7 linked regions of the Homo sapiens genome follow. The protein of the gene in region 5 interacts with the protein of the main gene of each other region in a pairwise test. Each region holds a gene or a part of one and is shown on either strand. Other genes may lie near its edges. The genes, in order: GRAP2, LMO3, ZGPAT, USP20, BEND5, EIF3D and FAM161A.

Region 1 (3,500 bases), on a different chromosome or scaffold from region 5:
ATGCTTCTTCCTATGATACCTGTCTCTTATAACCATGTTATTTCCTTTGAAAAATAGTTCATAAATTGGTGTGTGTGTGTGTGTGTGAGTGTGTGCATGTGTGAATTTACTTATGGGAGGCAAGTTAACATGTTCTTAGTGTTTAATATGGACCAGACTCTGGTAGTGCTTAGCTGTATTAAGTCATTTAATCCTCACAACAGCCCAGTGAGGGAGGTTTTATTGCTCTCTCCATTCTACAGATGAGAAAACTGATACTCAGATGGTTTCTTAACTTGGCTAGGTAATACAGGTAGCTAAGCGATTAAAGCAGGATTTCATACCAGGTCTGTCTGACGCATTTCCTTTTAAAGCAATAGTCTGTATTGCAAACAGTTGCAACAGCAATAATTCCAAGTGCAGTTTTCTCCTCCCATGTCCTCCCTACCCCCAATCCCATCATAAAACTCCACATGCTGATTTAACTCCTGAACTCTAGGCTGTTCCCTAATGTCCCTGTCTGTAGCACCCCCAACTCCTTCATCCTTGGGCAACTCTTGAGCTAGGTTGAAAACTTTGGTGTAGCAATGTCTATGAATAACAAAAAAACAGCACCTGTGGTAAGAGCTGATGCTTGCTGAGCGCAGTGTGATGAGGAATGACATGAGGCGTGGGATACATTATCTTCTCCAACCTTCACAGCCATTCTGGGAGGTAGATATTACCATTGTCCCTACTTTATGGATGAGGAAACTGAGGCGCAGAGAACTTTCCAAAGTCACACGACTAGGAAGTGTTAAGTTGAGATCTGACCTCAGAGCTCTGAGCTCTGTCTTTCAGTATACTCAGAGGATCTACCCATCCTATGCATTTTTCCTGGTGGTTCATGTGAGAACTCAGGCTGCCTAAAATCTCTAGATTGGGGTCGACTGGATCTGGAGCATACCTGGTCTTCTCGGGTTCTGTCTCTAAGGAAGATCTGCTTCTGTCTGGAGATGGAATTTGTCCTGTAGTAGTCTACCAGCTTATTTAGGGATGGAAACTTCTCAGTCCACAGAAAGTAATTACCCTTGTTGTCTCGCATGACCTTGAAGTGTTGAACGTCATCCTCATGCCTGGAGATCAAGGCAAAACAAAATTGTATGTTACACGGTGATAATGTCACCACCTCCAGGCTGCTCACATCTGGGATGGTGGAGTTCTCTTTGAGCAGGAGATGTAGATATGGATGACTCACTCATCACTGGGCAGGTGGGCCAGCCCAGTCAGGCTTCGGCAGGAACTTTGTAGGATGGACCACTTAGGATACAGGCTATGCTAGACGGGATTTACATCAGCAGAAGGTAATCAGATGAGCTAAAATTTGTTTTGGACACTGGAACTAACCTTTTACAAGAAAAGCATGTTCCAAGTGACTTAACGACAAAGAGATCAAAGACCTTTTCACAATGTTTATTCGCAAGATGTCAACAGGGGTATTTCAAGCTCCTATTATCTTTCTGTTACCAGAAATTCTTTGAACCATCTCCTTTAAGCCCATAAGCTAGCACTGGCAGGTAAGAAGCTACTCTCTTTCCTAAGAAATATGTCACATTTTTTCTCTATGTAATAAGGATCTCTTGATCTTGGTTTATGTTTTGCATAAATAAGGTTACAAAGTGTTTTCAGCTTTTGGTGAAATAGCTTTGTATGAAATACAGAGTTTTTGTTTGTTTGTTTGTTTTGTTTTTTTGAGATGGAGTCTCACTCTGTCGCCCAGGCTGGAGTGCAGTGGTGTGATCTCTGCTCACTGCAACCTCCGCCTCCCAGGTTCAAGCGATTCTCCTGTCTCAGCCTCCTGAGGAGCTGGGATTACAGGCACCCACCACCAAGTCTTTAGTAAAGACGGGGTTTCGCCATGTTGGTCAGGCTGGTCTTGAAGTCCAGACCTCCGGTGATCCACCTGCCTTGGCCTCCCAAAGTGCTGGGATTACAGGTGTGAGGCACTGCGCCCTGTGAAATGATAGAGTTTTAATTGGCAAGGATGTTGGAGATTGTTTAGCCTTACTTCTCCATTTTACAGATGAGGACACTGAGGCTCACAGAGGTGCAGGGGCTTGGTCAAGGTCACTGCTGAGTAAGGGCTGAGGCCAGAACCCTGAGTCTCTGACTCCAGTCTAGTGAGCTTGGCCTGTCACGCCACCTAAACATGATAACTTCTTTTTTCTTTCAAATGAGTTGGTTTAATTTCAGGTGATACAAAGTTTAGGGTAGAACAACGACCAAAGAGCAGATTCTGGCAAGATTCTGAGCTGGTTTTACTTTAAATTCACAGTTATGGTAGGAATGACTTAGTGAAAACAACTAAAGAGATGATGAGCCACTGGAAGATTTTTTTTTTTTTTTTTTTACAAAAGTTTATTCTTAAATGTACAACAGCTCCAAGACGACACTTAATTCCAACTATAGGTGGCAAAAGATATTATAGGAGGGAATAGAGAGGTTTAAATACGGATGAAATAAAGGGTCACCGTCTCCTTAGGCACAAGGAACAGCTTATTTTTTGCCAGATTTCTTAATTCCACCTGTGGCCAGAGGCCCCTTCCCCACGACCTTCGCTTTTAGCACCTCGAGTTTCTTCTGCTCCTCTTTTTGTTTCTGCTTGAAAGCCTTCTCTTCCTCGTCCATCTCCTTGGCCTGCTTCTTGGGCTGTTTCAGTGCCTTCTTCTTGCCACCTTCGTGGCTGGACATGGCGCCTGCCGCCCCTTCCCCAGACCCTGCCACTGGACGATAACTTCTTTTAGATCAGCACCTTTTGTTGCCAGTCTGGACTCACAAGTGATGGGACACATTCGAACCAGGGCTAGAGAAAATGGATTTTATCCATCTAGGAAGGGTGGGCTGAGCCTTTACCATTAGATCCAGTTTTACTTCATTGCCAAGTCATTCTCTTTTGGATGTAAAGTTTATTTTTCAAACAGACATACATTTATATCTAAAAATAAACTGGCACTAGTGATGCCAATTGCCTGATGTAAAAGAAAGGTCAAGAATTTTAAAGGGTCTCGGAGAGTAAAGATACCTCTGAGAGTAAGTGGAGGTTTCTTTTTGAGTCAGAGTCTCGCTCTGTCGCCCAGGCTGGAGTGCAGTGGCGTGATCTCTGCTCACTGCAAGCACCACCTCCCAGGTTCATGCCATTCTCCTGCCTCAGCCTCCCAAGTAGCTGGGACTACAGGCGCCCGCCACCACGCCCGGCTAAGTTTTGTATTTTTAGTAGAGACGGGGTTTCATCGTGTTAGACAGGATGGTCTCGATCTCCTGACCTCATGATCCGCCCACCTCAGCCTCCCAAAGTGCTGGGATTACAGGCGTGAGCCACTGCGCCTGACCATGGAGGTTTCTTAGGGATGGATTTAGGGACCTGTGTTAAGAAGGAGATGGAAATTCTGACCCTCAATCTCATCTTATGTGCTGGGATTTGCTCATAGCTGGGTGAAGCCACAGGTTGTACAAGTGGCCTCTTGCTTGACTGATTTCGGGTG
Region 2 (3,145 bases), on a different chromosome or scaffold from region 5:
CAAGTCTCTAAGACTATATGAAGTCAGCTAAATCACTCAAAAATATCTAGAAATTACATCTCATATTAATTCCAAAACATCAGAATTAGATGGTTTAATAATCTAATTGGGCATCTTCTTATTCCTTACCATAATTTTTTTAAATGAGGGTAAAATTAATTGAACTGAGCATACTACAAGTAATTAGGGTCAGATTACAAGAAAGATTATGTTTATTTTTAGTAATTGTAGCCTGTTAATATACTTACAGTATCCTCTGGCTATCACTCCTTTCATAATGCTTTTTTTTTTTTTTCCTGCAAATGCTGAATCTCATAAGAAGTTGGTTAAATCACACTGGAAATTAGCATTTCTTACAAAATCACAGTTACAGATTAATTTGTTAAATACATACTATCTGTATTGCTGTCTCTGAAATTTCTTTATATTTATATATGAAGCATTTTTTAAAGAGGATGTCAACCTTAATTGCATACCAGTCGTAATCTGCTCTTAACCACAGCTTTCAAGGCTGTTTTGTTTGAGTCATATGTGCAAGTGTGACATCCCTCATCCATGTTCGTTTCATCTTGACCTTTAAGTATAAATTGAAATGCATATAAAATGCACTTTATCCAGTTGATAACATATTAGTAATAAAATATGTCAGGTAGGAATATTTTAGAAAAGTTCTGTCTCTCTCTCGCTCTGCCTCTGTTGCTCTATATATACCACTTAATTGAATAGTAGGCAGACTTTTTTAAAGTTATGCAAAAGAAATAATAGTAATACAAAAAACACAGTTACACCCTGTATAACCATTTAATCTTCACATTATTCTTGTAGCCTGCATGCTTTACTGCCCTCAGGTAAAAGCTTGAGTCTTGAATCCAAAAAGGCCTGGGTTATTTTTCTTCCTTTACTATAAACGTTTTAACTACAGAATCTTGGGCAGGGCTTTGAAATTCTGGCACGGAGTCTTAGGTTTTTCTTCTGTAAAAAGCCATGACAATGCTTACTTTCTAGGTTGGATGTAGGGAATAAATGTGATCATGTACATACATGCTTAGCATTTAGCACATGGTAAGCATAAAAAGGTGGCTATTTTACCTATGTTTCAAACATTGAGGTAAGATTTTAGATATTTCATTTCTACTCCTTGCCACAAGCCTACAAAGTCGACTGATGTCACAGGTATTAAAAACCAAAGTTTTATTTTCAATTATCATAAGTGGGAAGGTAGAGTTTGGACCCTACTGGTTGCAGTATACCTCTCTGCCTTTCAGACACTTTTCATTTGATAAGGATATCAAACTGGCTTGCACAAACACCATTATTGAAGTGCAACATTTAAAGTATACAGGTTACAACTAATACAAAGAAAATATACTTAAAGCCCCAAACTTGAATGTTCATTGTATCCAGTAGCTTTGACCACAAACAACCCTAGGATTTCAAGATCAGTGCATAGTCTGTGCTTTCAATCAACATCATCAGCAGGCAGTAATCCTGGGGAAAAAAAGTAAATTCCACAAATAGACCAATTTTCCTTTAAGAGGAAAGCTAATTCTTTTCAGTCTACTTTTTTTATTACACTATTTTCCTCTCTATCTACTTAGCTAGTATAAGGATAAATTTCCAAAGCTACCCAGTTGGAAAAAAATAGGTTCACTGTTTGTCTAGCATTCCAATCTTTGCAAATGTAAATCAGTCCAACTGCTCCTCATTTAAACCTTCAACTTCACAAAACATTAAAGGGTGGCTTTCACTACACAATTTAATCTATCCACTAAGATTTCTGCTGGAACATCATTTGAAATTGACTATCTGATAAAGAGAGACTACTATCAAAGGTCATAGAGGTCAACTTGTATAATTACAAGTAGTTTTACTGGGTCAACTCTACCAGACACCACTATTTGAAGGTTAAATTGTTACAATTAAATATATATACAGATCTCCCCAGAGTTACTTTATTGTTAAATGTACCAGAAACAGAAAAAACATTTATTTCTGACCTTAATTGTGTCCAAAGTGTCACCGTGGGGAAATCATACAGAAAGAACACTTATTAAAAACATTGCAGTCTTGCACATTAAACAATGCTTTATGAAATAAAATGCATAATTAGCTATTGGAAACTAGTTTAGTTTATCACATCAATATTAAGTAGTTCATTTAGGTTACTCCCTTTGGTTGAATTGGAAGTGCTCTAAGAAATGACATCTACTATTTCATGTTGGTGAACTTGCCACAAACAAAGGAAAATGGCTCAGCATCAGAATCTGATGCTAGAGCAACTTTCATTTCAGAATGATCACTTCTAGATTACTAACATTTAATCACATTTTAATAACAGAGTAAAAGAAAGCTTTAAATGGGAAGCTTTAAAATAGGCTATTTTCTAATTGTTTGATTCATTTTAATGCCTTTTACTTTTTTATTAAGTGCCTAAATGGCCAGAGATGAAATCATCCATAATTACTGCAGTGAAACATTATTATCATTCTTTCTTTTATTTTAATGGGTGTAAATACAGATCAGTTCTTTTTATTTTTTTTCTTTCCAGTGTGGTTTAAAAAAAAAAAAAGCAAGTCATCTTTGGTGCCCAAAGTGTTTATCTCAATATCCTTAGAATTTTTGCATGCAAAGGCAAGATTTCAAATGTGTGCAACATTTCATTAAATGAAGTAAATGGTAAATGGTCTAATTCTGATAATGAAGACAACTGTCTAAGCCAGGTTTTCAGATTCAGGGAATTACCATGCGAAACTATTAATAGGAAAATAAATCTTCAAATTTCTAGATCCAAGTGAAATGGTCTTAACCACATTTTATTGTTTAAAATATTTTCAGATTTTGTGTTGGAGACAAATTTTTCCTAAAGAATAACATGATCCTTTGCCAGACGGACTACGAGGAAGGTTTAATGAAAGAAGGTTATGCACCCCAGGTTCGCTGATCTATCAACATCACCCCATTAAGAATACAAAGCACTACATTCTTTTATCTTTTTTGCTCCACATGTACATAAGAATTGACACAGGAACCTACTGAATAGCGTAGATATAGGAAGGCAGGATGGTTATATGGAATAAAAGGCGGACTGCATCTGTATGTAGTGAAATTGCCCCAGTTCAGAGTTGAATGTTTATTATTAAAGAAA
Region 3 (3,500 bases), on a different chromosome or scaffold from region 5:
TTTTTTGAAACAGCGTCTTGCTGCTCTGTCACCCAGGCTGGAGTGCAGTGGCACAATCTCGGCTCACTGCAATCTCCGCCTCCCTGGCCCAAGCCATCCTCCCACCTCAGCCTCCCTAATAGCTGATACTACAAGTGTGCACTGCCACGCCCAGCTAATTTTTGTATTTTTTGTAGAGACGGGATTTCACCATATTACCCAGGTCTCGAATTCCTGATCCCTTTGATGAGAGATCTGACACATCCCTGTGGTGCTCCCTCTGGGCCAGGCACTGCTCCAAGGGTTTCATATACTTTCATTCATCTGTGCAACAGCCCTGTAGGTAGGCCCTGCAGTCACACCATCTGACAGAGGAGGAAACAGGAGTAGAAGAACTGAGTGGTCCAGGGCTTCAAGGCTCAGAGGGCTCCGGTTGCCCCCAGCCCTCGTTCCGTCCCCTGCTCCACCCAGTGCTGCTTGCCATGTCGGCATCAGGCCTGATCTGAAAGCTTCCGGAGCATCTTACAGACGTCCACCTTGCCACCATTCAGGACTGATAAGTTCTCTTGGATTTGCGTTGGACCTTTTTTTTTTTTTTAAGATGGAGTTTCACTGTTGTTGCCCAGGCTAGAGTACAATGGCATGACCTCCACCTCCTGGGTTCAAGGGATTCTCCTGCCTCAGCCTCCCAAGTAGCTGGGATTACAGGCGCCTGTCACCACGTGGTGCCCAGCTAATTTTTATATTTTTAGTAGAGGCAGGGTTTCACCATGTTGGCCAGGCTGGTCTCGAACTCTTGACCTCAGGTGATCCCGCCTTGGTTTCCCAAAGTGCTGGGATTACAGGCATGAGCCACCACACCCGGCCCAGGATTTCTTTATATATTCTGGATATCATCCCTTATGAAGTATATAGTTTGCAGATATTTGCTCCCATTGTTTGGGTTGTCTTTTCACTTGATATAGTGTCCTTTGATGCACAAACATTTTAAATTTTGATGCAGTGCAATTTATTGTTTCTTTATTGCCTATGTTTTTGTCATCAGGTTTAAGAAACCACCTCATCCATAGTTATGAGGATTTTCACCTATGTTTTCTTCTAAGAGTTCTGTAGTTTTAGCTGTTAAATTTAGGTCTTTGATCCATTTTGAGTTAATTTTTGTATATGTTATTAGGTGAGGGTCCACTTTATTCTTTTGCATGTGGATTTCCAGTTTTCCCAGCACCATTTGTTTAAAAGACTGCTTTTTCTCCACTGAATGGTCTTGGCACTTTTGTCCAAAATCAATTGGCAATATATGTAAGGGTTTATTTCTGAGCTCTCTCTCCTGTTCCATTGGTGTATATGTGCCAGTACCACACTGTTCTGATTATTATAGCTTTGTGATAAGTTTTAAACTCAGGAAGTGGTAGTTATTCACCATTTGCTCCTCTTTTTCAAGTTTGTTTTGTTTCTGGATCCTTTGCAATTTCATATGAATTTTAGGATCGGCTTGTCCAATTCTGCATAAAAGACAGTTTGAATTTTGATATGGATTGCATAGAATGTGTAGATCTGTTTGGGGCACATTGTCATCTTTACAATATTAAGCCTTCTGGCTGGGTGTGGTGGCTGACGCCTGTAATCCCAGTACTTTGGGAGGCTGAGGCGGGCATATCACTTGAGGTCAGGAGTTCAAGACCAGCCTGGCCAACGTGGTGAAACCCCGTCTCTACTAAAAATAAAAAACAAATTAGTCGGAGGTGGTGCACACCTGTAATCCCAGCTACACGAGAGGGTGAGGCAGGAGAATCGCTTGAACCTGGGAGGAGGAGGTTGCAGTGAGCTGAGATCATGCCACTGCACTCCAGCCTGGGTAACAGAGGGAGACTCCATCTTAAACAACAACAATAACAGAAGAAAAAAACAGTATTAAGTCTTCCAATTCATGAATGAAGGATCTGTCCATTTATTTACGTCTTTAATTTCTTTCAACAGTATTTTGTACTGTTCAAGTCTTGCACATTCTTGGTTAAATAAGTATTATTTTTGATGCTTCTCTAAGGAATTGTTTTTCTTTTCCTTTTTTTTTTGAGACAGAGTCTTGCTCTGTCACCCAGGCTGGAGTGCAATGGCACAATCTTGGCTCACTGCAACCTCTGCCTCCCGGGTTCAAGCAATTCTTCTGCTCAGCCTCCCAAGTAGCTGGGATCACAGGTGCCTGCCACCACACCCAGCTAATTTTTTTTTTTGAGATGGAGTCTTGCTCTGTTGCCCAGGCTGGAGTGAAGTGGCCCAATCTTGGCTCACTGCAAGCTCCACCTCCCGGGTTCACACCATTCTTCTGCCTCAGCCTCCTGAGTCGCTGGGAATACAGGTGCCTGCCACCACGCCCAGCTAATTTTTTGTATTTTTAGTAGAGATGGGGTTTCACCATGTAGCCAGGATGGTCTCGAACTCTTGACCTCAGGTGATCTGCCTGCCTCGGCCTCCCAAAGTGCTGGGATTACAGATGTGAGCCACTGTGCCCGGCTGGAGTTGTTTTCCTTAGTTACATTTTCAGGCTGTTTGTTGCTAGTATATAGAAATACAAGCTGGGCACCGTGGCTCACGCCTGTAATCCCAGCACTTTGGGAGGCCAAGGCGGGTGGATCACCTGTGGTCAGGAGTTCGAGACCAGCCTGGCCAACATGGTGAAATCCAGCCTCTATTAAAAATACAAAAATTAGTCTGGCATGGTGGCAGGTGCCTGTAATCCCATCTACTCAGGAGGCTGAGGCAAGAGAATTGCTTGAACCTGGGAGGCGGAGGTTGCAGTGAGCTGAGATCGCGCCATTGCACTCCAGCTTGGGGAACAAGAGTGAGACTTCATCTCAAAAAAAAAAAAAAAGAAATACAGTGGATTTTTTTATGTTAATCCTGTATTGATTGCTGAATTGGTTTATTAGTGCTAATAGGATTTTTTATGCACTATTTAGGATTTTCGATATATACAATCATATATATTCAATATATACAATTAATATATATGTGAATAGAGATAATTGTAGTCTTTGTTTCTAGTTTGCATGGCATTTATTTCTTTTTCTTGCTTAACTGCCTTAGCTAGAACTTCAAGTACAATGTTGAATAAAAGTGACTAGAGCGGGCCGGGGGTGGTGGCTCACACCTGTGTTCCCAGCACTTTGGGAGGTGGAAGTGGGCAGATCACTTGAGATCAGCAGTTTGAGACCAGCCTGGCCAACACGGCGAAACCCCATCTCTACTAAAAATACAAAAATTAGCTGGGTGAGGTGATGTGCACCTGTAGTCCCAGCTACTTGAGAGGGTGAGACATGAGAATTGCTTGAACCTGGGGGGCGGAGGTTGCAGTGAGCCAAGATCATGCCACTCCACTCCAGCCTGGACGACAGAGCAAGAACCCTGTCTTTAAAAAAAAAAAAAAAAAAAGTGGCTAGAACAAACATCTTTATCTTGTTCCTGATCTTAGGTGGAAAACTTTTTTGTTCCTGATATTAGGTGGAAAACTTTTAGTCTTTCAC
Region 4 (3,500 bases), on a different chromosome or scaffold from region 5:
TTTTCTTTTGCCTGTTAAACCTCTGCTCCTAAAAACAAAAACAAACCAAAAAAAATACCTAAATCGGTTACTGTTAATGGTTTTTCAAGTTTCCAAAATAAGAAAATAAGAAGAGTGTGCATCTGGCTTCCTAGGTATGTTGCTCTTCCCCAAACTCCTGAGGGCACCATAGGGGACAGAGCCTCTGTTCCCTGGAGCTCTCCAGGCCCCTGTGCCAGGCACTGCCCTGAGCCTACACAGGGTGGTTTTCAGAGAAGGGGTGGGAGCATCTGAGTGGTCCCAGAAGTCCCCAAAGCTGCTACCTGGATGGCTCCTAAGCACACTTCTCCAGGTGACTCACAGGGGCCAAGAAGTGCCCTCAACATGTGTTTTTTGTATTTTTATCTATTTATTTATTTAGAGACCAGGTTATGAGACTGGCTAATTTTTGTATTTTTGGTAGAGACAGGGTTTTGCCGTGTTGCCCAAGCTGGTCTTGAACTCCTGGGCTTAAGTGATCTGCCCACCTCCACCTCCCAAAGTGCTGGGATTACACACATGAGCCACCATGACCGGCCCTCTCAATATTCATTTTTGCCTCATTTACCTCCATGTTGTATTCAAATTTTTCATCTTCTCCTACTTGTCCTGAAAATTTTAAAGGCATTTTTGTCTGGTTTTCATAAATTTGATATATACCTTCATAGAAGCTGGAAACAGACACAGACATAAAATGAAATAAAAATCACCTGTAATCCTGCTGTACAGGAAAAAAAATATGGTTACCTTTTTGGTTTTGGTAAGTCTTATTTACATGTACGAATATATAATTTTTTTTTTTTTTTTTTTTTTTTTGAGACAGAGTCGCGCTCTGTCACCCAGGCTGGAGTGCAGTGGTGCGATCTCGACTGAACACACTCTCCACTTCAGGTTCAAGCCATCCTACCACCTCAGCCTCCCGAGTAGCTGGGATTACAGGCACACACTCCCACGCCTGGCTAATTTTTGTATTTTTTGTAGATATGGGGTTTCGTCATGTTGCCCAAGCTGGTCTCAAACTCCAGAGCTCAACCAATCCATCTGCCTGGGCCTCCCAAAGTGCTGGGATTACAGGCGTGAGCCACCATGCCCAACCAGATATATAAATTTTAAAAATAAACTGCAATATAACCAATAAATTTGTATACAGCTTTTTTTGGTTTATATATTTCTAATGTCACTAAATTTCTTTTCAGCTTCATTTCTAATAGGTGAATAATATTATACCACATATAATTTAAGCTATACAACCCCTTACTGAATTATTTATCCATCATAGGACGTGGTATTTTTGTATTTTGTGTATGTGTGTTTTGCCATTATAAAGAAGGCACTGAGAAACATTTTGGAATATGAATCTTTTGTTTTGCTTAAAGACAAGTCTCAATCTGTCACCCAGGCTGGAGTGCAATGGTGTGATCATGGTTCACTGCAGCCTCTACCTCCCTGGGCTCAGGTGATCCTCCTACCTCAGCCCCCCAAGTAGCTAGGACTACAGGCATGCACTACCAAGCCTGGCTACTTTTTAATTTTTCTTTTATAGAGACAGAGTTTTGCCATGATGCCCAGATTGGTCTGGAACTCCTGGGTTCAAGCAATCTGCCTGCCTTGGACTCCCAAAGTACTGGAACTACAGGTGTGAGCCACCAGGAATGTGAAACTTTGACTAAATCTTTTTGTTTTGTTTTGTTTTGTTTTTTTGAGATGGAGTTTTCACTCTTGTTACCCAGGCTGGAGTGCAGTGGTGTGATCTCGGCTCACTGCAACCTCCACCTCCTGGGTTCAAGCAATTCTGCTGCCTCAGCCTCCCAAGTAGCTGGGATTACAAGCACACACCACCACGCCCAGCTAATCTTTTTGGATTTTTAGTAGAGATGAGGTTTCACCACATTGGTCAGGCTGGTCTTGAACTCCTGATCTCAGGTGATCCGCCTGCCTCAGCTTCTCAAGTGCTGGGATTACAGGCGTGAGTCACTGCGACCAGACTGTCTTTTTGTTGTTGTCGTGGTTGAGACAGAGTCTTAGTCTGTTGCCTAGGCTGGACTGCAGTGGCGTGATCTCTGCTCACTGCAACCTCCGCCTCCTGGGTTCAAGCGTTTCTCTTGCCTCAGCCTCTAGAGTAGCTGGGATTACAGGAATCCACCATCACACCCACATAATTTTTGTATTTTTAGTAGAGACGAGGTTTCACCACGTTGGCCAGGGTGGTCTCGAACTCCTGACCTCAAGTGATCTGTCCACTGCGGCCTCCCAAAGTGCTGGGAGTACAGGTGTACGCCACCATGCCCGGCCTACATCTTTGACCAAAAAAAAAAAAAAAAATTATTGGTCAAAATGTGTGCTTTGAAGGCTCTACATAGATATTGATAAGCTTCCCTTTAGAAACAGTATATACATTTATCTGCCTATCAGCAGTATATGAGTATGTGCAACATAAAAAGTTTAAGGTTTACTAACATTTTAAAAATTAATGGTTAAAAATCATTTCTATGAAGGAAAAAGGGCGGTAGTACAGAAAACACTGGGTGCTTAATATTCCACACAAAGGGCCAGGTGCGGTGGCTCACAGCTGTAATCCCAGCACTTTGGGAGGCTAAGGAGGGTGGATCACAAGGTCAGGAGTTCGAAACCAGCCTGACCAACATGGTGAAATCCCATCTCTACTAAAAATACAAAAAATTAGCCAGGTGTGGTGGCACATGCCTGTAAGCCCAGCTACTCAGGAGGCTGAGGCAGGAGAATCGCTTGAACCCAGGAGGCAGAGGTTGCAGTGAGCCGAGATCACGCCATTGCACTCCAGCCTGGGCAACAGAGTAAGACTCCGTCTAAAAAAAAAAAAAAAAACTTCCACACACAGGACCTAAAATATCGGAAGCATGGGGGTCGACAAGAGGGTGCATATCTCAGCTGTCTGAAAGTTATCATTTTGCTTCCTTTTGGTACCCAACCAACACTGACCATGTACCTCCTTAGGAACAGTGACTTGGGGTGCTGGGAAACAGCCAGGCATAGGCCCTGCTCTTGTAGTGTACAGAGTCCCATACTTCAACCTCAGGGTACTTGCAAGCAGACACTAGGGAGGTGATAATCACCACCAGCACCTCTGTTTCCTACACTCACTGAGGGTTAGCTGCTGCACATACATTATCCCGGGAGGTAACGGTCACTATGGAAGGAAATTACAGGGACAAGTAGCCCTGGGTTCAGTACCTCACTCTGCCCCTTGCAAGTCTGTGACTTTAGATAAATCGCTCAGTCTCCACATTCATAAAATGGGGACAATGACAGCACCTAGGGTTACTGAGAAGATGAAGTGAGCCAATGCACAGTAAACGCTAAGTTGAATGACTTAGGGCCTCATGGACTTTCTGGGTGGCTCAGATTTTTTATTGATTTGCATGACAAGAATGCTCAAAAAATGTTTACTACTATAATTTGTGTCACTGGCTGTTCTATACATTAGGACACTGAAATTGGTAGGA
Region 5 (3,500 bases):
CCTTGTGTTTTTGGTCCTTACAACCCAGTATATGATAAGAACCCAACCAAAATGCAAGGTGTGACTTCGTGAGAGACACTGGCTTATATAGTGCAAATATCTGCTCTCTATGCCATCCTAACCCTAATCCTGAGTTGAAGGTATAGATACCTCACATCCATAGAAGATTACTGAACATTCAGTGTCATCATAACAAATGGAAGAAATGGTTGGGAGAGGGTGGCCCAGTATCTAGCAAAAACAGTGCAGTCTTTTGAATCAGGTGGTCCTAATTTGGAATTCTGGCTTTGCTACATACTAACTGTGGCAGCTTGGGGTAAGCTAGTTAACCTGTCTGAGACTCAGTTTCATTACCAGTGAAGTGGGGATAATAAACTCTTTTCCAAAGAGATAGTGCATGTAAAAGCACCAAGCACAGTGCCTTTCTTGTCATAGATGTTCAATAAATAGCAGCTGTTAGGCTACCCTTGTGTATTACCTGTTTGCCTTTTGTCCCAAGGCAAAGAGAACCACTGCAGGTATCTGACACAGACTGAGACATGATGAAAGAGATGTTTTAGGAAGATTAATGTGACAGTGGCAAGCAAGACGGATAAGACGTGAGGAGGAGACAGAACACAGGGTGACAAGAAGCTGTAACTCTTGACTGGTCACATGAATGAAGGTGAATGGTGGTGTGGATCATGTAAGACAGTAAATACTTTATGTGGCATTTTAATGTGACTTTGGGATATGCTTCTGGCTTTGAATTCCAAGAAACCACAGAAGAAACTAGGAAGGATGAAAAAGCTCTTTACTCAGCCGGTCTGTGCAACTACTCTAACCTTGAGGCCAAATAATCAGTTTTAGTGTAAACAAAAATAAATGTGCAGCCTCTGAAGATAAAATCACCAATCTTCACTTCTGGACTCTTTTATGTCCAGGGCAAGGGAAACCACCAAAGATTTGGGCATTATCCTTTTCCTCCTCCTTTCTAGCTACTACAATGTCAGCTAATTACATTCATCCATTCAACAAATACTGAGTGAGCACCTACTATGTGCCAGGCTCTGGGCAACATTCCTTACAAACTCACTATATTTAATCCCTACAATAATGCTACTGAAGCAGAAACTGAGGCTCAAAGAAGTGAAGTGGCTTTCATAAAGACATAAATAGCAGAGCCAACATTTCAAATCAAGTCTGTTTAATACAGGCCCTGTTCCTATCACCTAATTATCCTACAGCAACAAGAGAAAAATAAGGAAGTTGCTGTAACTTCCTCAAATGAACTAAAAGGCACATGTAACATGAGTATGTCAATATAACTTCCTAAAGTGCCTGCCTTTCTCCCAAGATCTTGCCTACACCCTAAGAGAATACTGTGATGAATTCCCAAGTTGAAGTAAACACTATATAAATATGACCTGTTGCCAAACTCCTGAACTACAAGGCTTATGGAAGCCACAAAGCTCTAAATAATGCCCAAATAGGGTCTCTACTCAAAGCCACAAAGAGCTTTCTTGTAAAAAAAATGGTAAAAACTGCTATTCAAAAATATAGAAGAACTTGGTGTTATTAATCTGAGGAGGATAAACATTCCATTAAACTTACTACTGGGGAAAAAAGGAAGCATGCTGGTAATAGGCAAATGGTGTTTTAGAAAAAACAAGCAGGTGACAGGAAACCCAATGCAAGTCTGTATTCAAAAGTGAATTTACCCATGAAGAATTTACAGTATTATTAAAATGGGAGAAATTTTGTCTTAACTTCCATTTGACATATAATCAGGCTGGGCAATTAAAATAATCCAATGTCAGAGAGCCTAATTTGGTATGAGTTTGTTAGCCAGGATGAAATTCTGAAAGGCTACACATAAAATGCTTTGTAAAGGTCTTATAAATATCTATATATAAGTTTAAAGTTTTTCATCTATACAAAAATCCTGTGCAGTTTTATGTTTGCATTAAAAACAGATATGCCACAGAAAATACAAACACAGTGCATTCTCTGGCCGATGGTGTTTGTTTTTATAAAATCCAAGGCAGACAAAATTCTCAAGTTTCAAGGATTGTACCCAGCCAAGACTACAAAAAAAAGAGTGCCCTGCTGTGGTGTTGCAGAAAGACATCAGGAGACACCAAATCGAGGCCTGCCTCTCTCATTAACTTGTTTGGTGATTAGTCCTCTCTTGATTTTCTTTTCTGTAAAACATGAAGACTACAGTAGAAAACCTTAACAGATCCATCCAGCTATGTGACCGCTGGCCAGTCACAGGGACTTCCAGGTCTCTTTCTCAGCTGTGTAATGTAGGGTAACAGTAGATGAGCTAGAAGATTCTTCCACGTGGGCATGTTTGAAGAAATGCCCTACTGAGGCCATCCACATAGGGAGAGAAGGAATTGCTAGCCAGGTTTCAGTAGGTCTCCTTGTTCTCACTCCCACCACCTCTCTGGCCTTGGTACAGGACTGGGGCACAGAAAAAACTGGGAAGTTCATTCTATGGAGCCATTTGTCTAGCTGCCTCCATGTGCCTCACCAGGGCTGCTGCCAACACAATAAATGCCCCCAGGATAGGGTCGCAGAGGAACAAACAGGGAGGGAAATATTAATAGTAAGCCTTTCATGCTTAGGTCAAGTCCCAGGAGGATTTAAAACACACACACACACACACACACACACACACACACACACACACACAAGTTAAATTTTAAACTTGTATGCTCCTTCCAAGTGCTCGTTCCTCTAAGTCATTCCTTTCCACAGTGGGCAGTACCCACAACTAAGCAAGTCACTGTTCTTCTCTCAGCACCTATTAGTCCACTGTAGTTCCTAACAGTTATCTATATTTAATGAGAACCTACTATATGCCAGATATTTTTCCATATTATCCTGCTAAATAACACAGTGGGCAATTACTATCTCCATGCTATAGATGAGCACCTGGAACTCAGAGATGTGAAGTAATCTCCCCAAAGCCACACAGCTTCTAAGTAGCACAGTCACAATTTTAACCCAGACTATGTAACTTCAAAGCCTGTCCTCTTTCAGCTCTCTAAAATTTCCTCTTCAGTAGTTAAGGAAATGATCTAGAAGTCATCTAACCAAACTCTCCCATAGTGCAGGGTTCCATCCTAAAATACCCCTGACCTGCTTGCCACCTTTAGTGACAGGGAGCTCAGCACCATGCTAGAAGCCCTTTCCATTATTTGTCTGCTCTCTCTGCTGTTATATTGCTCCCACCAATGCCTGTGAATTCCATTCTCTGACCCCAACTCTGCTTTCAAGAGCAAGGCTGATCCTTCCTCTGTGGTGCAAAACTGAGAAAATGAAAATTACCAAAATATCATCCCATTCAAATCTTTTCTTTTCCTGCTTATGTATTTAGCTGTCCTATCCTATGTCTGACCAATGAGTGAAAAGGAAAAGGTAGCTGCTATATAGTTAAAAGAAACCCAAACAAGCCTAGTTCTAGGATCCAAAGACCTCTCTTCTCATTTGGTTTCCAGGACACCTATCTC
Region 6 (3,500 bases), on a different chromosome or scaffold from region 5:
CATCTACCCCTTGTTGCAGATGAGAGAACTAAGGCTCCAGAGACTAAGCCAGGAAGCGCGGCAGAACTGGGCTTCAAGTCCAGCTGTGCTTAACATCCACATTTCCGGTCTACCTGGCAAAGTGCTTTTACCTATAATACATACGTTATTCCCATGTCTTCTGTTCTTTCTGCAGCTTCAGCTGTAGAAGCCGACAGCATTCCTAACAAGGGGGAGAGGGGCAGAAGGAGGCGCACACCTTGCGGATGACAGGGTCGTCTGTGGTGGTGACAGTGTGGAAGATGCGCTTGATGCTCCGCAGTGGCTTCTCACTCCTCGTGGTGATGCGGTCAAAGGCTTTGTCGTAGTATTCTAGGGCCCCACAACACTCACTGTGGGAAGAGCAGGCAAAGACATGCAAAGTAAGAGAGATAACCCCCAGTTTTTTCTTTTAAGCCATACATCCAGAAGTCTTATCCAAAAGTCTAAAAGAGGTGGAAAGCAATCTCTGGCCAGAGCAGGAGAGACGAATCCTCAGTGCTTGCTCAGTTCCTGTCCACTTAACACCTGGCATAGAACACAGCAAGCACAACTCATCTAGCCCAACGCCCCCATTTTAAAGGTAGGGTGACCGAGGCTAAGACAGGAGATGACTAGTTATAGAAGCACCTGGGTAGGCTGACTTCTCGTCTGGTGCTCTGGTTTCCCACTACCTAAATTCCACCTACTTGTCCTTTGAGGTAAGAAGCTATTTGAAATGTCAGGAGAAGCAAAGATTCCTCCTGAAGAATTGCTGTGTTTCTTTTCCTGACAAGAGTTTTATAACTTAATCTTATTGCTCTTTTGCTCAGGATGCCAGGAAACAGAAATATACAGTTTAATAATCAGCAAATTCCATTCTGCTTTCTCTTTCTGCCAAAAGAGTTGTATAACTCATTTCTTCTTTCCTCAGGATACCAGGAAGTTAAAAAGAAGTTTGCAGTCAGTGAACTTCTGCTTTTCCCCTTGGTCTTGATTTTTTTTTTTTTGAGATGGAGTTTCGCTCTTGTTGCCCAGGCTGGAGTGCAATGGCAAGATCTCAGCTCACTGCAACCTCCACCTCCAGGGTTTAAGTGATTCTCGTGCCTCAGCCTCCTGAGTAGCTGGGATTACAGGTGTGTGCCACCACACCCGGCTAAGTTTTTGTATTTTTAGTAGAGACTGGGTTTCACCATGTTGGCCAGGCTGGTCTTGAACTCCTGACCTCAGGTGACCCACTGCACCTGGCCGGTCTTGATTTTTTTCAAATACCTCTGTTAACCTTATGAAATGTGTTTTGAGTAAGTGGCTTCAAAGCCTTTTTGGAAATACTAGGGCTTAAGAAAATACCCATCACCAGCTGGTCCACACACATAAGAGCAGTGTAGAAAGTAGTAAAAGATGCTGCTTACATGTCCTGTGGCTCTGATACTTCCAAGTAGCGCATCTTCATCAACTGAGGAAAATCCATTTCCTCTTTCACTTCCCAATCACTACGAACTTCAACTGAAGAGTCTCGGGGTTTCTGCAGTTGAAAACCATTAGAGGAAAAAAAAGTTATAGTCCATACAAAACATAAATAAAAGACAGGCTAAAAATATGAAGAGCTGGCCTGGTGCAGTGGCTCATGCCTGTAGTCCCAGCACTTTGGGAAGCTGGGGCAGGATGATTGCTTGAGCCCAGGAGTTTGAGGCTGCAGTGAGCTATGATTGCACTACTGCACTCCAGCCTGAGTGACACGAGATCCTGTCTCAAACAACAACCACATAAAACGGAGGGGCTCAGTGGCCCTTTGGGAGGCCAAGGCGGGCAGATCACCTGAGGTCAGGAGTTCGAGACCAGCCTGTCCAACATGGTGAAACCCCATCTCTACTAAAAATACAAAAATTAGCCAGGCATGGTGATGCATGCCTGTAATCCCAGCTACTCGGGAGGCTGAGGCAGGAGAACAGCTTGAATCTGGGAGGCGGAGGTTGCAGTGAGCTGAGATAGCACCACTGCACTCCAGCCTGGGTGACAGAGCAAGACTGCGTCTCAATAAAAGAGAGAAAAGAAAAAGAGCTTTTATTCAATAAATGGAGTGCTGACTGTTTTATAAGACAGAATCCCTGACTCCCAGGAATTTATGGTGTGGAAGAGGACCAAAGGGATCAAAAGTTCAAAAGCAAATGGGGTTCCACTCCCAGGTAATGATGTCACCTGATGAACATGTAGAAGGTCCTTTATATTTCTCTCGGGTTATTAACTATTCTTGATACAGCATCATATCCAACAAAATGTAGCTTCACTTTTGCTTACATGTGTTCTGTTCTCAGAATGCCCACACAAGCACACGCAGGTGAACGTTCACAGCAGCATCAATAATAGTCAAAAAGTGAAAAACAACTCAAATGTTCATCAGCATGTGAATGGCTCAAAACAACATGATGTATAATTCAAAGGACTCTTATTTGGCAATAAACAAGAAAAGAAGCTCATCTGGGCTGGGTGTGGTGCCTCACGCCTGTAATCCCAGCACTTTGGGAGGCTGAGGTGGGTGGATCATCTGAGGTCAGGAGTTTGAAACCAGCCGGGCCAACATGGTAAAACCCTGTCTCTACAAAACATATGAAAAAAAAAAAAAAAAAGCCAGACATGTTGGCACGTGCCTGTAATCCTAGCTACCTGGGAGGCTGAGGTGTGAGAATCACTTTAACCCGGGAGGCGGAGGTTGCAGTGAGCCAAGATCGCGCCACTGGCACTGCAGCTTGGGTGACAGAGTGAGATTCCATCTTAAAAAAACAAAAAACAAAAACCAAAAAAACCAACAACAGATGAAGCACAGCTGAACTTGAACAACATGGGTTTGAAGTACATGGGTCTACTTAATATGCAGATTTTCTTCAAACAAACATGGATTGAAAATACAAGCCAGGCGCAGTGGCTCATGGCTGTAACCCCAGCACTTTGGGAGGCTGAGGTGGGTGGACTGCTTGAGCTCAGGAGTTTGAGACCAGCCTGGGGAACATGGCAGAACCCCCTATCTACAGAAAATACAAAAATTAGCCAGGCGTGGTGGTGCATGCCTATAGTCTCAGCTACTCAGAAGGCTGAGGTAGGAGGATCACTTGAACCCAGCAGGCAGAGGTTGCAGTTGGCTAAGATTCATGCCACTGCACTCCAGCCTGGGTGACAGAGCAAGACTCTGTCTCAAAAAAGAAAAGAAAAAGAAAACAGTATTCTTGGGATGCAAACCCCGAGTATATGGAGGGCCGACTTTTCATATATGTGGCTACCACAGGCCGAATGTGGGACTTGAGAATGTGTAGACTTTCATATACTGAAGGAAAACTGTACCGACACATGCTACCACATGGATGACTCTTGAAAACACGCTAAATAAAAGCTGCCAGTTACTAAAGACCACATATTGTATGATTCCATTTATGTAAAATGTCTAGAACAAAAAATCCCGAGACAGAAAACAGATTCATAGCTGCCTACTGCTGGGCTACTGGGGGTGC
Region 7 (3,500 bases), on a different chromosome or scaffold from region 5:
TGAACCTGGGAGGCAGAGCTTGCAGTGAGCTGAGATCAGGCCACTGCACTCCAGCCTAGGCGACAGAGCGAGACTCTGTCTCCAAAAAAAAAAGCAGTCTTCAATAGAACTTACGTGCAGAAATTTGCTACCAACAACTCTATGAATCAGAGAACTGCTTTAACTATGTCAAACAATTCAATTAAGAGAATTCTCTGATATCTTCTGCTGTTTCTTTATGTGCTTCTCACCATAAACTTCTTATCTGCAGGATGACTACTTTGTGAATTTCCTCATTCATTAAATATTTGGGGGCCATCCTGCAATCAGCTAGCTGCTAAAATGTACGTCAGATTTTTTTTAAACTCTACCTTTGAGGCCAGGCACAGTGGCTCACACCTATAATCCCAGCACTTTGGGAGGCCGAGGCAGCCAGATCACTTGAGGTCAGGAGTTTGAGACCAGCCTGGCCAACATGGTGAAACCCCCTCTCTACTAAAAATACAAAAATTAGCCAGGCATGGTGGCAGGTACCTGTAGTCCCAGCTACTCGGGAGGCTGAAGCGGAAGAGTCACCTGAACCCAGGAGGTGGAGGTTGCAGTCAGCCAAGATCGTACCACAGCACTCCAGCTTGGGTGACAAAGCAAGACTCTGTCTCACTTAAAACAAACAAACAAACAAAAACTCTACCTTTGAGAAGTTTCCAGCTAGCTTAGGAAAGGACATGTATATAAATAATAGACAGCTGACTTAGAATGAGACAGAACACCTGATTCCTGCCCACAAGCTACTTCCAGCTAAGCGGAGAGACAGATGTATGTCACAATGTCAGACACTAAGAGACAGAGGCACAATTCACAGAGGTGAGCCAGACTGGAGACACATGGTTGGACGAGGACAAAGTTTGCCAGATCAGGGAGGCAGTGAAAAAGGAATAAATAAATCCGAGGCATAGTGCTAGAACATCCATCGCCAGGAAACATGTGGATAAATGTCTGGAGACCTGGTGAGAAGGCTGGGCTGGAGAGCAGATACAGGAGCCACCAATCCACACAGAAGTAGCAGGTGCAGCCTTGGTTATGGACGAGGCTGCCTGGAGGGAGTGTGAGCAACAAGACATGAGAGGACCTGAGAATGGAGATGTTGGAGAACACCAACATTTAAATAAGCAGCGGAAGGAGGACTAATAGGAGGTAGAGAGTGGCATGAGAGATACAAAGACCAACTGATACGGGTCTTTGGAGCCTCTGATTGAGTATTCTGACACCACATCTGTAATTTTTCTCCTAAACCATGAGAACACTCCAAACTAAAAGTTATTTAACTCTCACCCAATGCTTTCACCTTTATAGGGTCAAAAGGGGGCTGAAACCAGGTGACCAGTGACCAGGAGCCAGTGGTAGACAGGAAATGGAGGGAGCTTTTGTTTCGTTTGAGTTTGGAAGATAGGGGAAGACTTCCTGGAGGAGGTAATATTTGAGATGAGTCATAAAGAATGGAGGCCAGGTGTGGTAGCTCATGCCTGTAATCCCAGCACTTTGGGAGGCTGCAGTGGGAGGACTGCTTGAGGCCAGGAGTTCCAGACCAGCCTGGGCAACACGGCGAGACACCATCTCTACAAATTTTTTTTAAAAAATTAGCTGGATGTGGTGGCTGAGGTGGGAGGATCACTTGAGCCCAGGAGGTTGAGGCTGCAGTGAGCCGTGAGCGCGCCACTGCACTTGAGCCTGGGCGACAGAGTGAGACCTTGTATCAAGAAAAAAGAAGGCTGGGCGCGGTAGCTCACGCCTGTAATCCCAGCACTTTGGGAGGCTGAGGTGGGTGGATCACCTGAGCTCAGTAGTTCAAGACCAGCCTGGCCAACATGGTGAAACCCCTTCTCTACTAAAAATACAAAAATTAGCCAGGCATGGTGGCGTGTACCTGTAGTCCCAGCTACTCAGGGGACAGAGGCAGGAGAATCGCTTGAACCTGGGAGGCAGAGATTGCAGTAAGCTGAGATCGAGCCATTGCACTATAGCTTCGGCGATCAAGCAAGACTCTGTCTCAAAAAAAAAAAAAAAAAAAAAAAAGAATGGAGAAATCTATAGGATCACAGAGTGTTTATGGGAAAGAAGGGGAAAGTACCCTAGGCAAAGGAAATGGCGTTAGCAAATGCGCAGGCTGGGGTTGGGGAGGCTGTGCATAGCAGAGGGCAAGGTGCACATGGCTGCCGGATAAAAGGAGAGGAAAACCCATAAAGCAGTTTTGGGAAGTAAACCTAGAAAGGGAGGTTAGGGCAAGCAAGAAGGGGTTTCCATCTCCTGCCTACCACTGGCTCCTGATTACTGGTCACGTGGTTTCAGCCCCCTTATGACCCTTCAAAGATGAAAGGGTTGGGTGGGAGTTAAATAACTTTTAGTTTGGAGTGTTCTCACAGCTTAGGAGAAAGATTTCAGATGTGACGTCAGGATACTCATACAAGCCTGGGCTCCGCACTTAGCAATGTGATGTGGGCATGAACTTCTTGAACATCAGCTTTAAGATATGTAAAGTAGGTGTGCCAGGTGTTAAACTAGTGTCTCTCAGCTCCAATGCCACCCTTCTCGACTCTGCTTTGCAATGCCAGAGCTGGAACTCTGCAAACCACACTTCTGCTTTGCCAGTGCTCCTCATCAGACTCTGCTAAAAGTGGAGTTAGAGGGAGATACAAGGCTAGAGGAGAAAGATGGGACTTACTCCTTTCTGTTAGCCCTCTGACTGCTTCCTGTCGGCTTGTGTCAGTCTAGCAACGGTTATTCATCTGGGCAGCAGCAGTTCGTTTTAGTAGCAGTGTCTGAATCCAGTATGCAGTTTTCACTCGAAAAATCAACAGAATTGGCCAGGCACAGTGGTTCATGCCTGTAATCCCAGCACTTTGGGTCACTTGAGGTCAGGAATCCGAGACCAATCTGGCCAACATGGTGAAACCCCATCTCTACTAAAAACAAAACTTAGTCGGGTGTGGTGGTGCATGCCTATAATCCCAGCTACTCGGGAGGCTGAGGCAGGAGAATCGCTTGAATCCAGGAGGCAGAGGTTGCAGTGAACCAAGATCGCACCACTGCACTCTAGCCTGGGTGACAGAGTGAGGCTCCATCTCAAAAAAAAAGAAACAAAAATCCACAGAATTACTTCAAGGCCTTTGCACTTGCTGTTCCCTCTCCCTAGGATGCCTTTTCCTCCAGATATCCACATGACCCACTTGCTCACTCCTTCAGGTCTTTATGTAAATGTTGTCTTCTCAATAAGGTCTTCCCTGACTCTCCTATTTAAAATTACAACTTCTCCCAGGACTCACTGTCAGCCCCCTTGTCTGTCTTATTTTTCCCAGAAGTACTCATCACCATTGACGTCCTACATATCTGTACTTGATTGTGTATTATATGCCTGCCCCTACCAAAAAGTAAACATTACAAAGGTAAGAATTTGCCAGGCCTGATGGCTCAGGCCTGTAATCCCAGCACTTTGGGAGGCTGGGGCAGGTGGATTGCTTGAGCCC

What was found.
Region 1: the proteins of BEND5 (region 5) and GRAP2 interact in a two-hybrid assay, tested with the Homo sapiens proteins (one large-scale study listed by BioGRID and IntAct).
Region 2: the proteins of BEND5 (region 5) and LMO3 interact in binary tests that used the Homo sapiens proteins (3 or more experiments, as listed by UniProt).
Region 3: the proteins of BEND5 (region 5) and ZGPAT interact in binary tests that used the Homo sapiens proteins (3 or more experiments, as listed by UniProt).
Region 4: the proteins of BEND5 (region 5) and USP20 interact in binary tests that used the Homo sapiens proteins (3 or more experiments, as listed by UniProt).
Region 6: the proteins of BEND5 (region 5) and EIF3D interact in binary tests that used the Homo sapiens proteins (3 or more experiments, as listed by UniProt).
Region 7: the proteins of BEND5 (region 5) and FAM161A interact in binary tests that used the Homo sapiens proteins (3 or more experiments, as listed by UniProt).

What each region holds. Positions count from the first base shown.
Region 1 is NC_000022.11:39,963,584-39,967,083, reverse strand, and holds part of GRAP2 (GRB2-related adapter protein 2), read right to left. Parts: intron 3,165-3,500; exon of another isoform or gene 2,710-3,164; coding exon of another isoform or gene 2,515-2,709; exon of another isoform or gene 2,179-2,514; intron 1,095-2,178; coding exon 926-1,094; intron 1-925. Other genes in the region: TMA7B (translation machinery-associated protein 7B), read right to left, coding at 2,515-2,709. UniProt on the Homo sapiens protein: Interacts with SLP-76 to regulate NF-AT activation. Binds to tyrosine-phosphorylated shc.
Region 2 is NC_000012.12:16,551,018-16,554,162, reverse strand, and holds part of LMO3 (LIM domain only protein 3), read left to right. Parts: intron 1-2,835; coding exon 2,836-2,941; 3' UTR 2,942-3,145.
Region 3 is NC_000020.11:63,711,039-63,714,538, forward strand, and holds part of ZGPAT (zinc finger CCCH-type with G patch domain-containing protein), read left to right. Parts: intron 1-3,500. UniProt on the Homo sapiens protein: Transcription repressor that specifically binds the 5'-GGAG[GA]A[GA]A-3' consensus sequence. Represses transcription by recruiting the chromatin multiprotein complex NuRD to target promoters.
Region 4 is NC_000009.12:129,841,958-129,845,457, reverse strand, and holds part of USP20 (ubiquitin carboxyl-terminal hydrolase 20), read right to left. Parts: intron 1-3,500.
Region 5 is NC_000001.11:48,766,892-48,770,391, forward strand, and holds part of BEND5 (BEN domain-containing protein 5), read right to left. Parts: intron 1-3,500. UniProt on the Homo sapiens protein: Acts as a transcriptional repressor.
Region 6 is NC_000022.11:36,519,167-36,522,666, forward strand, and holds part of EIF3D (eukaryotic translation initiation factor 3 subunit D), read right to left. Parts: intron 1,523-3,500; coding exon 1,410-1,522; intron 372-1,409; coding exon 239-371; intron 1-238. UniProt on the Homo sapiens protein: mRNA cap-binding component of the eukaryotic translation initiation factor 3 (eIF-3) complex, a complex required for several steps in the initiation of protein synthesis of a specialized repertoire of mRNAs.
Region 7 is NC_000002.12:61,844,061-61,847,560, forward strand, and holds part of FAM161A (protein FAM161A), read right to left. Parts: intron 1-3,500. UniProt on the Homo sapiens protein: Involved in ciliogenesis.